Linked DNA regions of Homo sapiens: all the other regions are linked to region 2. The links come from fine-mapping of genetic effects on gene expression. A gene starts in region 2. Each other region holds a variant in brackets. All regions are shown on one strand. Distances are between the middles of the regions.

Evidence for each region. PIP is the estimated chance that this variant, and not a neighbour inherited with it, causes the effect. A credible set is the group of variants that fine-mapping cannot tell apart.
Region 1: its variant is the best candidate, but not a certain one, in a credible set for the expression of CTSF in whole blood (INTERVAL, PIP 0.81).
Region 3: its variant is the best candidate, but not a certain one, in a credible set for the expression of CTSF in esophagus muscle (GTEx, PIP 0.50).

Annotation. Positions count from the first base shown.
Region 1 is chr11:66,532,550-66,535,305 of GRCh38, reverse strand. BBS1 (Bardet-Biedl syndrome 1) reads right to left here. Exons shown (of 17, transcript NM_024649.5): 17 at 1,708-2,756. It also overlaps a transcript of ZDHHC24 not described here. Among named protein-coding and RNA genes, the nearest start is that of ZDHHC24, 12 kb to the left of the region's middle. The variant C/T (reference allele first, on the strand shown) is at 1,042.
Region 2 is chr11:66,567,306-66,570,047 of GRCh38, reverse strand. It overlaps CTSF (cathepsin F), which reads left to right and starts at 1,442. Exons shown (of 13, transcript NM_003793.4): 1 at 1,442-1,774; 2 at 1,966-2,064; 3 at 2,386-2,604; 4 at 2,727-2,742. The coding sequence starts at 1,562. RefSeq lists a silencer at 1,324-1,393.
Region 3 is chr11:66,488,977-66,491,732 of GRCh38, reverse strand. It overlaps DPP3 (dipeptidyl peptidase 3), which reads right to left. Exons shown (of 18, transcript NM_130443.4): 7 at 350-480; 8 at 109-239; 9 at 1-35. Among named protein-coding and RNA genes, the nearest start is that of DPP3, 9.9 kb to the right of the region's middle. RefSeq lists an enhancer at 1-814. The variant T/C (reference allele first, on the strand shown) is at 1,198.

The DNA.
Region 1 (2,756 bases), 35 kb after region 2:
CTCAGCAGGTCGAGGCTGCAGTGAGCTGTGACCGTGCTTCTGCACTCCAGCCTGGGTGACAAGAGCTAGACTCTGTCTCAAAAAAACTAAAACAAAAACAAAAGTTGTGTCCAGGCCAGGTGTGGTGGCTCATGCCTGTAATCCCAGCACTTTGGGAGGCTGAGGCAGGCGGATCACCTGAGGTCAGGAATTCAAGGCCAGCTTGGCCAACATGGTAAAACCCTGTCTCTACTAAAAATACAAAAATTAGCCAGGTGCAGTGGTGCATGCCTGTAATCCCAGCTACTCGGGAGTCTGATGGAGGAGAATCACTTGAGCCCGGGAGGCAGAGGTTGCAGTGAGCCGAGATCACGCCAGCACACTCTAGCAGATCACGAGGTGAGGAGATCGAGACCATTCTGGCTAACACGGTGAAACGCTGTTTCTACTAAAAATACGAAAAATTAGCCGGGCATGGTGGCAGGCGCCTGTAGTCCCAGCTACTCGGGAGGCTGAGGCAAGAGAATGGTGTGAACCTGGGAGGTGATGCTTGCAGCGAGCCGAGACCGCGCCACTGCACTCCAGCCTGGGCGACACAGTGAGACTCCGTCTCAAAAAACAAATAATAAAATAAAATAAAATAAAATAAATGAAAAAAATCTTTAAAAACTCTAATGACTTTATTTTTTTTGGTAGGGACAGGGTCTCACCATGTTGCACAGGCTGGTCTCCAGCTTATGGGTTCAAGCGATCCTCCTGCCTTGGCTTCTCAAAGGGCTGGGATTACAAGTGTGAACCACTATACCCGGCCTCTAGTGACTTTTTTTTTTTTCTTTTCTTTTGAGACAGAGTTTCGCTTTTTTTTTTTTTTTTTTTTTTTTTTGAGACAGAGTTTCGCTCTTGCCCAGGCTAGAGTGGTGTAGTGGCGCGATCTTGGCTCACTACAACCTCCACCTTCCTGTTTCAAGCAATTCTCCTGCCTCAGCCTTCCAAGTAGCTGGGATTACACGCGCCTGCCACCATGCCTGGCTAGTTTTTGTATTTTTAGTAGAGATGGGGTTT[C/T]ACCATGTTGGCCAGGCTGGTCTCGAACTCCTGGCCTTGTGATCTGCCTGCCTCGGCCTCCCAAAGTGCTGGGATTACACGTGTGAGCTACCACGCCCAGCCAGTTTCGCTCGTTTTGCCCAGGCTGGAGTGCAGTGGCACAATCTCAGCTCACTGCAACCTCCGCCTCCCGGGTTCAAGCGATTCTCCTGCCTCAGCCTCCCAAGTAGCTGGAACTACAGGTGTCTGCCACCACGCCTGGCTAATTTTTGTATTTTTAGTAGAGACAGGGTTTCACCATGTTGGCCGGGCTGGTCTCAAACTCCTGACCTCAGGTGGTCCGCCTGCCCCGGCCTCCCAAAGTGCTGGGATTACAGGCGTGAGCCACAGTGCCCAGCCTTCTGGCCATGACTTTTTAAAGAAGATATTTGAGGATATGTTTCACCAAATGAGGGTGAACTGAGAAATAGGAAGCCATCAGGCCCAGGAATCAGGATCTAGCCCAGGAGAGAGGCAAAGGCAATTTACCTGGAAAACAAACAGTCCTCAGTGAAGCAGGGGATGAAGGGAAGTGTCTAGAAAAAAGAGGAGCTGTCAGATGGTGGGGGAAGAATTAGCAATCAGTCCATCAGAAAACAAAGTAAATGAGAAACTCAGGGCAACTCATTAACTCCATTAAAAAGAAAGTACAAGGAAGGTAATTTAATTATAGTCCAACTCTTGGCTCCGCAGTTAACTTTCACATAGTAATAGAAATAGTAATCTGAGTATTTTTTAACCTAATAACTAGGGATGGGGGAGGGTTGCTGACAAAAGAGAGCTAAAGCCTCATGTATGACAACAGGGAGTCAACAGGTAATGTCTAAGATTGATATATCAAGCAAGAGTCATATAAGCACATTTTAAAAATAGCTGAATGAACTGGAAGTGACTGCTGGGTAGGGGAGCAGTACTAGAGAATGGGAGAGACTGTTTTCTTGTTACAAACTGTGTAATTCCACATTAGTAAGTGGGTATGTGTTTTTAAATAAGTATGTTTTAGAAAGACACCAATTCTCCTTGTCCTTAATGTTCACAATTTCTCTCTAGTGTGTGCACTGGGCACCCTGCACTGTTTCTTGCTTCATGTTGCTTTATGAACACTTACTGTCCTCATGGCACGGTTCATGTATTTCTTAGTGGTAGGTACATAATATTACATTATATAAACTTACATCAGGTGCTGGGCATATGTCTCCCATTTCATCCTCAGAAATAGCTATGACAAGAAAGGCCCCGCCTTTCCTGCTAATTCTCACGATGTGACCACTGCCCTGGGAACTTCCCACCCACATGACTGATTTGGGCTCCAGGATGTAGAAGGGCATCTATATGGGCAGTTCTGGACTTCTGCCTCCCGTGGCACTTCTCTGGAGCCCCAGAAACGCCTCTCCTGGTGCGCCTGGCCCTGGCTCTGCTCTGTCACACTCTGCCTTCCTCTCCTGGGCTTGCTTTCTGGGCATGAGCATCCCTGTCAGGAGCAGCTGCTGTGTGATCTTTAGGAGCTCTAGTGGGGCTGGAGCCACCAGCTCCCTGCGGGGCACCCTCTGCCTCCTGCACCCCCTTCTCCCTGAACAACCTTTGTGTGGCATCGTAGGCCTAAGACTGGCTAAGTCTAAGATTTCAGAGAAGTTTCCTGGGGAGAGGAGGGCTATTCCCTGGGTTTGCTCAGCTGACAAGGAGAGAGGAGAGCACGT
Region 2 (2,742 bases):
CTTGGCCCATGCCCAGGAATGAGTGAAGACAGCCAGCCTGTGAGGCTAGAAAGCAAGATGCAGTCAGCCATGTCAGATTTCTCTTACTGTCATAATTTTGCAAAGGCAGTTTCAATTTTTTTTTTTTTTTGAGATGGAGTCTCACTGTCTTACCAGGCTGGAGTGCAATGGTGCGCTCTCAGCTCACTGCAACCTCTGACTCCCTGGTTCAAGCGATTCTCCTGCCTCAGCCTCCTGAGTAGCTGGGATTACAGGCACGTGCCACCATGCCCAGCTAATTTTTTTGTATTTTTAGTAGAGACAGGGTTTCACCATGTTGTCCAGGATGGTCTCCATCTCCTGACCTCGTGATCCGCCCACCTTGGCCTCCCAAAGTGCTGGGATTACAGGCGTGAGCCACTGCGCCCGGCCTAAAAATATTTTTAGTAGTGACGGGGTTTCACCTCGTTGGCCAGACTGGTCTCGAACTCCTGAGCTCAGGTGATCTGCCCGCCTCGGCCTCCCAAAGTGCTGGGATTACAGGCGTGAGACACTGCACCCAGCCCATCTGTCGTTCTTCTCTCTAGACTGTGAGCTCCAAGAACGCAGCACTATTCCTGTAATGCATCTGTGCATGCTTTCCCTTGGTAGACCCTGGAACACAGCAGGTGAATGCTTCAAGGGACAGTCTCAACCCTGTGCACCCTGCCTTAGTGGCTACTGAATGCTTGCATGATTGCATTTGAACCTCACAACAGCCTGAGACGCTGCCAGCACTCAAAAAATTACCTGCCATCTCGCTGTTGAGAAGAGGGGCCTGAAAGAGGCGATCAAGCTGCAAACCCAGGCTCAGAAGCCAACTGCCTGGATTTAAGTTTAGCTCAATTCCTTACCAGATATTTGGCAAGCCACTTAATATTTCTCTCTCTCTCTTTTTTGAGACGGAGTTTTGCTCTTGTCGCCTGGGCTGGAGTGCAATGGCACGATCTGAGCTCACTGCAACCTCTGCCTCCTGGGTTCAAGTGATTCTCCTGGCTCAGCCTCCCAAGTAGCTGGGATTACAGGCGCCCACCACCACGCCCAGCTCTTTTTTGTATTTTTAGTAGACACAGGGTTTCACCACGTGTGCCAGACTGGTCTCAAACTCCTGACCTCAGGTGATCCACCCGCTTTGGCCTCCTAAAGTGCTGGGATTACAGGGCTGAGTCACAGAGCCCGGCCACGCCATTTAATCTCTCCAAGCCTCGTTTCCTCCACTGTACGATGGGGATAGCACCTACTTCAGAGATTGCTACGCCGAATAAAAGGAGCTGGCATATCATGCCTAACATATAACAAGCACGTGATAGAGGTCAGTGACTAGCTTTAGCCTCAGGCCAGCAGCCTCCCGCTCTCCCTACCCTGCGCGCCCCACGTGCCTCCTGTAAACAAGAGAACGCGCAGGCGCCGCAAACCAGCGCCCATTGGTCGGCGTGCCGTCGCCCCGCTGGAGGGAGGACTCAGGCCCCGCTGGCCGCGGGCTCGGTACCCGGTGGGTCGGTGGAGCGTCTGTTGGGTCCGGGCCGCCGGCTTCGCCCTCGCCATGGCGCCCTGGCTGCAGCTCCTGTCGCTGCTGGGGCTGCTCCCGGGCGCAGTGGCCGCCCCCGCCCAGCCCCGAGCCGCCAGCTTTCAGGCCTGGGGGCCGCCGTCCCCGGAGCTGCTGGCGCCCACCCGCTTCGCGCTGGAGATGTTCAACCGCGGCCGGGCTGCGGGGACGCGGGCCGTGCTGGGCCTTGTGCGCGGCCGCGTCCGCCGGGTGAGGACGCGCCGGGGGCGGGGGCGCCAGGCCCGGGTCCAAGGGATAGGAGCTTTGACCTAACATTGGGATGGGGCCTGCCCGCTGGACGAACCGATCTCTGGTGATGGGGAATGGGCAGCGCCGCACGGGCGGGGCCTTGGGCGCCGTCAAGGGCCGACTGTGCCCGCCTCACCTACTCCTCTCTCCAGGCGGGTCAGGGGTCGCTGTACTCCCTGGAGGCCACCCTGGAGGAGCCACCCTGCAACGACCCCATGGTGTGCCGGCTCCCCGTGTCCAAGAAAACCCTGGTGAGTGATGAGGCTCTTGGGGTTCCCCGCCCCGAGGCCGAGTAAAGCAGCAGTTGGATGATGACGGGTCAGGTCAAGACGCAGGGATCTGAGGTAGCTGCTGCCCCACCTTGAGCCACTTCCCAGGCCCCGAGGGCTGGAAACCAAGATGCTATGAAGGGGAGGATGCCCCGGTGCAGGCCGTGCCTCACTGTCCACTGTGATGGGGTGATTGCCTTAGGGGTGGCTCTCATCTGAGGAGCCTCCAGCTCCATCTTGGCCAGATCTTGCTCCCCAGATCCAGATCCAGGCCCCCAGAGCAGCTTCTTCCTCTCCCTCCAGCTCTGCAGCTTCCAAGTCCTGGATGAGCTCGGAAGACACGTGCTGCTGCGGAAGGACTGTGGCCCAGTGGACACCAAGGTTCCAGGTGCTGGGGAGCCCAAGTCAGCCTTCACTCAGGGCTCAGCCATGATTTCTTCTCTGTCCCAAAACCATCCAGACAACAGAAACGAGACTTTCAGCTCAGTCATTTCCCTGTTGAATGAGGATCCCCTGTCCCAGGTGAGGAGCCCTCAGCTTGAGGAGCCCTCAGCTTGAGGAGCCAGCCGCTGCCTCATCACCCTTCTCCCTTCCCTCTGGAGTGGGTTTCTCTGGTCAGCCTAAAGACTGGTCTGCCTATCCAGGACTTGCCTGTGAAGA
Region 3 (2,756 bases), 78 kb after region 2:
AGGGGTCGCGGTAGCTCTCGATGAACCCGATGTAACTGGGGGAGAGAAGGGCAGAGGTGGAGGAGGGGCAGGCAGGAGGGGGCAGGTGGGGTGGAGCTGGCGCCTCACCTCTCCACGATGGGGCCTTTGTCCTGGATCCAGAAGCGGGAGCCCCTCTTGTGGGCCTCGATGGAGCCCTGGGTGAAGCTCTCTATATACTGGGCCAGCATCTGCCCCTGGTGGCTGTTGGCTGCATAGGCCTGAGGTGAGCGGGGGTCGGTCAGCCTCGGGCCACCCACCCACCTCCACACCCGCTCTGCTGCCCAGAGGGGTCCTCAGCCCGCACCCCTCAGCCCCCAGCCAGTCCAACCTTGGCTTTCTCCAGCTGCTCCACCACCTTCTGGAGGATGGGCGCGTAGTCCCCCCGGGTCACCTGGAAAGGGCTTCCCCGGAATTCATAGCTCTTCAGCTTGGAAGTCACCTCAGAGTCCAGGGAAGGCTCTGGGGAAAGAAGGTGTCATTCAAGAGAAAAGGCTGGAGTAAGAGGCCTCACTCAGAGAAAAGGCCTGAGTAAGACACCTCAGCCGGCTTTTCCCCATAGCACTCTTTCACTCTAAGATTTTCAATGGCTCCCTGTAGCCAACAGACATGAGCATAAACTCTCAACTTCAAAAAAATATATATCAGCCGGGCATGGTGGCTTACGCCTGTAATCCCAGCACTTTGGGAGGCTGAGACGGGCAGATCGCCTGAGGTCTGAAGTTCGTGACCAGTCTGGCCAACATGGTGAAACCCTGTCTCTACTCAAAATACAAAATTAGCTGGGCATGGTGGTAGGTGCCTGTCATGCCAGCTACTCGGGAGGCTGAGGCAAGAGAATCGCTTGAACCCGGGAGACAGTGGTTGCAGTGAGCTGAGATCGTGCTGCTGCACTCCAGCCTGGGCAACAGAGAAGAGACTCCATCTCAAAAAAAAAAAAAACAAAACAAAAAAAACAAAACAAAACCCCAAAACTAAAAAACAAAAATATATGTATCACATAACATGTGCTTTCCGTGTGTTAACTCCTTTAAGCCTGACTCCAACTCTGGGAGGAGGCGGACATTATCATTTCCATTTCACCGATGGGAAACTAAGGCACCGAGAGCTTAAGTGGATAGCAAGTGGCAGACTGGATTTAAAAAGACAGCCACATCCCAAATGTAATCGACAGTCCCA[T/C]GGGGAGACAAGAGGGTGACTGGGAGGAGGAGCTGTGACGATAGCAGAGGGGAGCTGGAGTGAAGTTGGGGGGCTGGACAGCCTTCCAGAAGCTGGAAAAGGCAAGGAAGCAGGTTCTTCCTGAGACTCCAGAAGGAATGCGGCCCAGCCTTGCTTTTAGACTCTGGACCTCCACAACTGTAATAGAATAAGTTTGTGTTGTTTTGTGCCAGTAAATTTGTGGTAATTTGTTACAGAAGCAATGGGATGCTTACACACTACTGTATTTTCCTTGTTGTCTCTGATCAATAAAATATACTTCAAGGCTATGTAAAAACAAACAAACAAGCAAAAATAGCCACAGTATTTCCTGTCTTACTGCCTTTTTTTTTTTTTTTTTTTTTTTTTTTTAGATAGGATCTTGTAAGGTTGCCCAGTTGATCTCAGACTCCTGGGCTCAAGCGATCCTCCTGGCTCAGCCTCCTGAGTAGCTGGGATTACAGGTGTGAGCCATCATATCCAGCTCAACTGTGACTTTGCCCATGGAGATGTGGGATCTGTGTTCCCTCCTCCTGAAGCCAGGAAGGCTGTGACTTCAGCAGCAGGGACACCATGTGCTTAGGCCAGGTCACACAAGGTGAGCAGGCTTCTGCCTGGCTCTCCTGGGATGCTCACTCTTGGAGCCCAGCTACCACGAACAATAGGAGGGTGCCACATGAGGTATTTTAGTCAACAGCCCAGCTGGGTTCCAGCCGGCAGCCAGCACCTGCGTGTGAGTCAACAAGCCTGGGGATGCTTGCGGCCCCAAGCTGTCGTCTTCCCAGCTGAGGCCCCAGACATGGTCACCCAGCGACCGGCTGTTCCTACTGTGCTCCACCTGCATTCCTGACCCAGAGTCCATGAGCATGAAAAGGTGGTTTTGTATCACTAAATTTGCGGAGCATTTGTTCCACAGCAATAGATTATGACCCACTCGGGCAGTCCGGCTCCAGGGCCACATTCAACCACTGCCCGAAACTGCATCTTGTACTCTAAGTATAGGCCCAGCTTATGTTCCAGTGAGATCCACTCCTGTTCCTCTGAACCCACATCTGCCATCATCTCCCCAGTGGATGCTCGGATCCACCAAGCGCTAGGCACCAGGGAGACAACAGTGGATGAAACACACAGGCCCTCCTCTCGGGGAGCTTGTAGTCAGGGAAGCTACTGAATGTGCCGATGGGAAGAAAGAAGGGCACAGACTCAGTTATGGGAAGATAGGGAAAGGTCCTGGGGAAGGCAAGTCCATGCATGGCCTAGAGGATGGGGAGGAGGTGGCCAGGGGACAAGGAGAGGCTGGAGGGGGTTCCGCATGAGAAGCAGGGAATGGATTGTGCAAAGACCTGGACAGGGGCCAGGCGCGGTGGCTCACGCCTATAATCCAGCACACTGGGAGGCCGAGAGGCACGCGGATCACCTGAGGTCAGGAGTTCAGGACCAGCCTGGCCAAATGGCGAAATCTCATCTCTACTAAAAATACAAAAATTAGCCAGGTATGGTGATGGGCACCTGCAATCCCAGCTACTGGGGAGGCTGAGGCA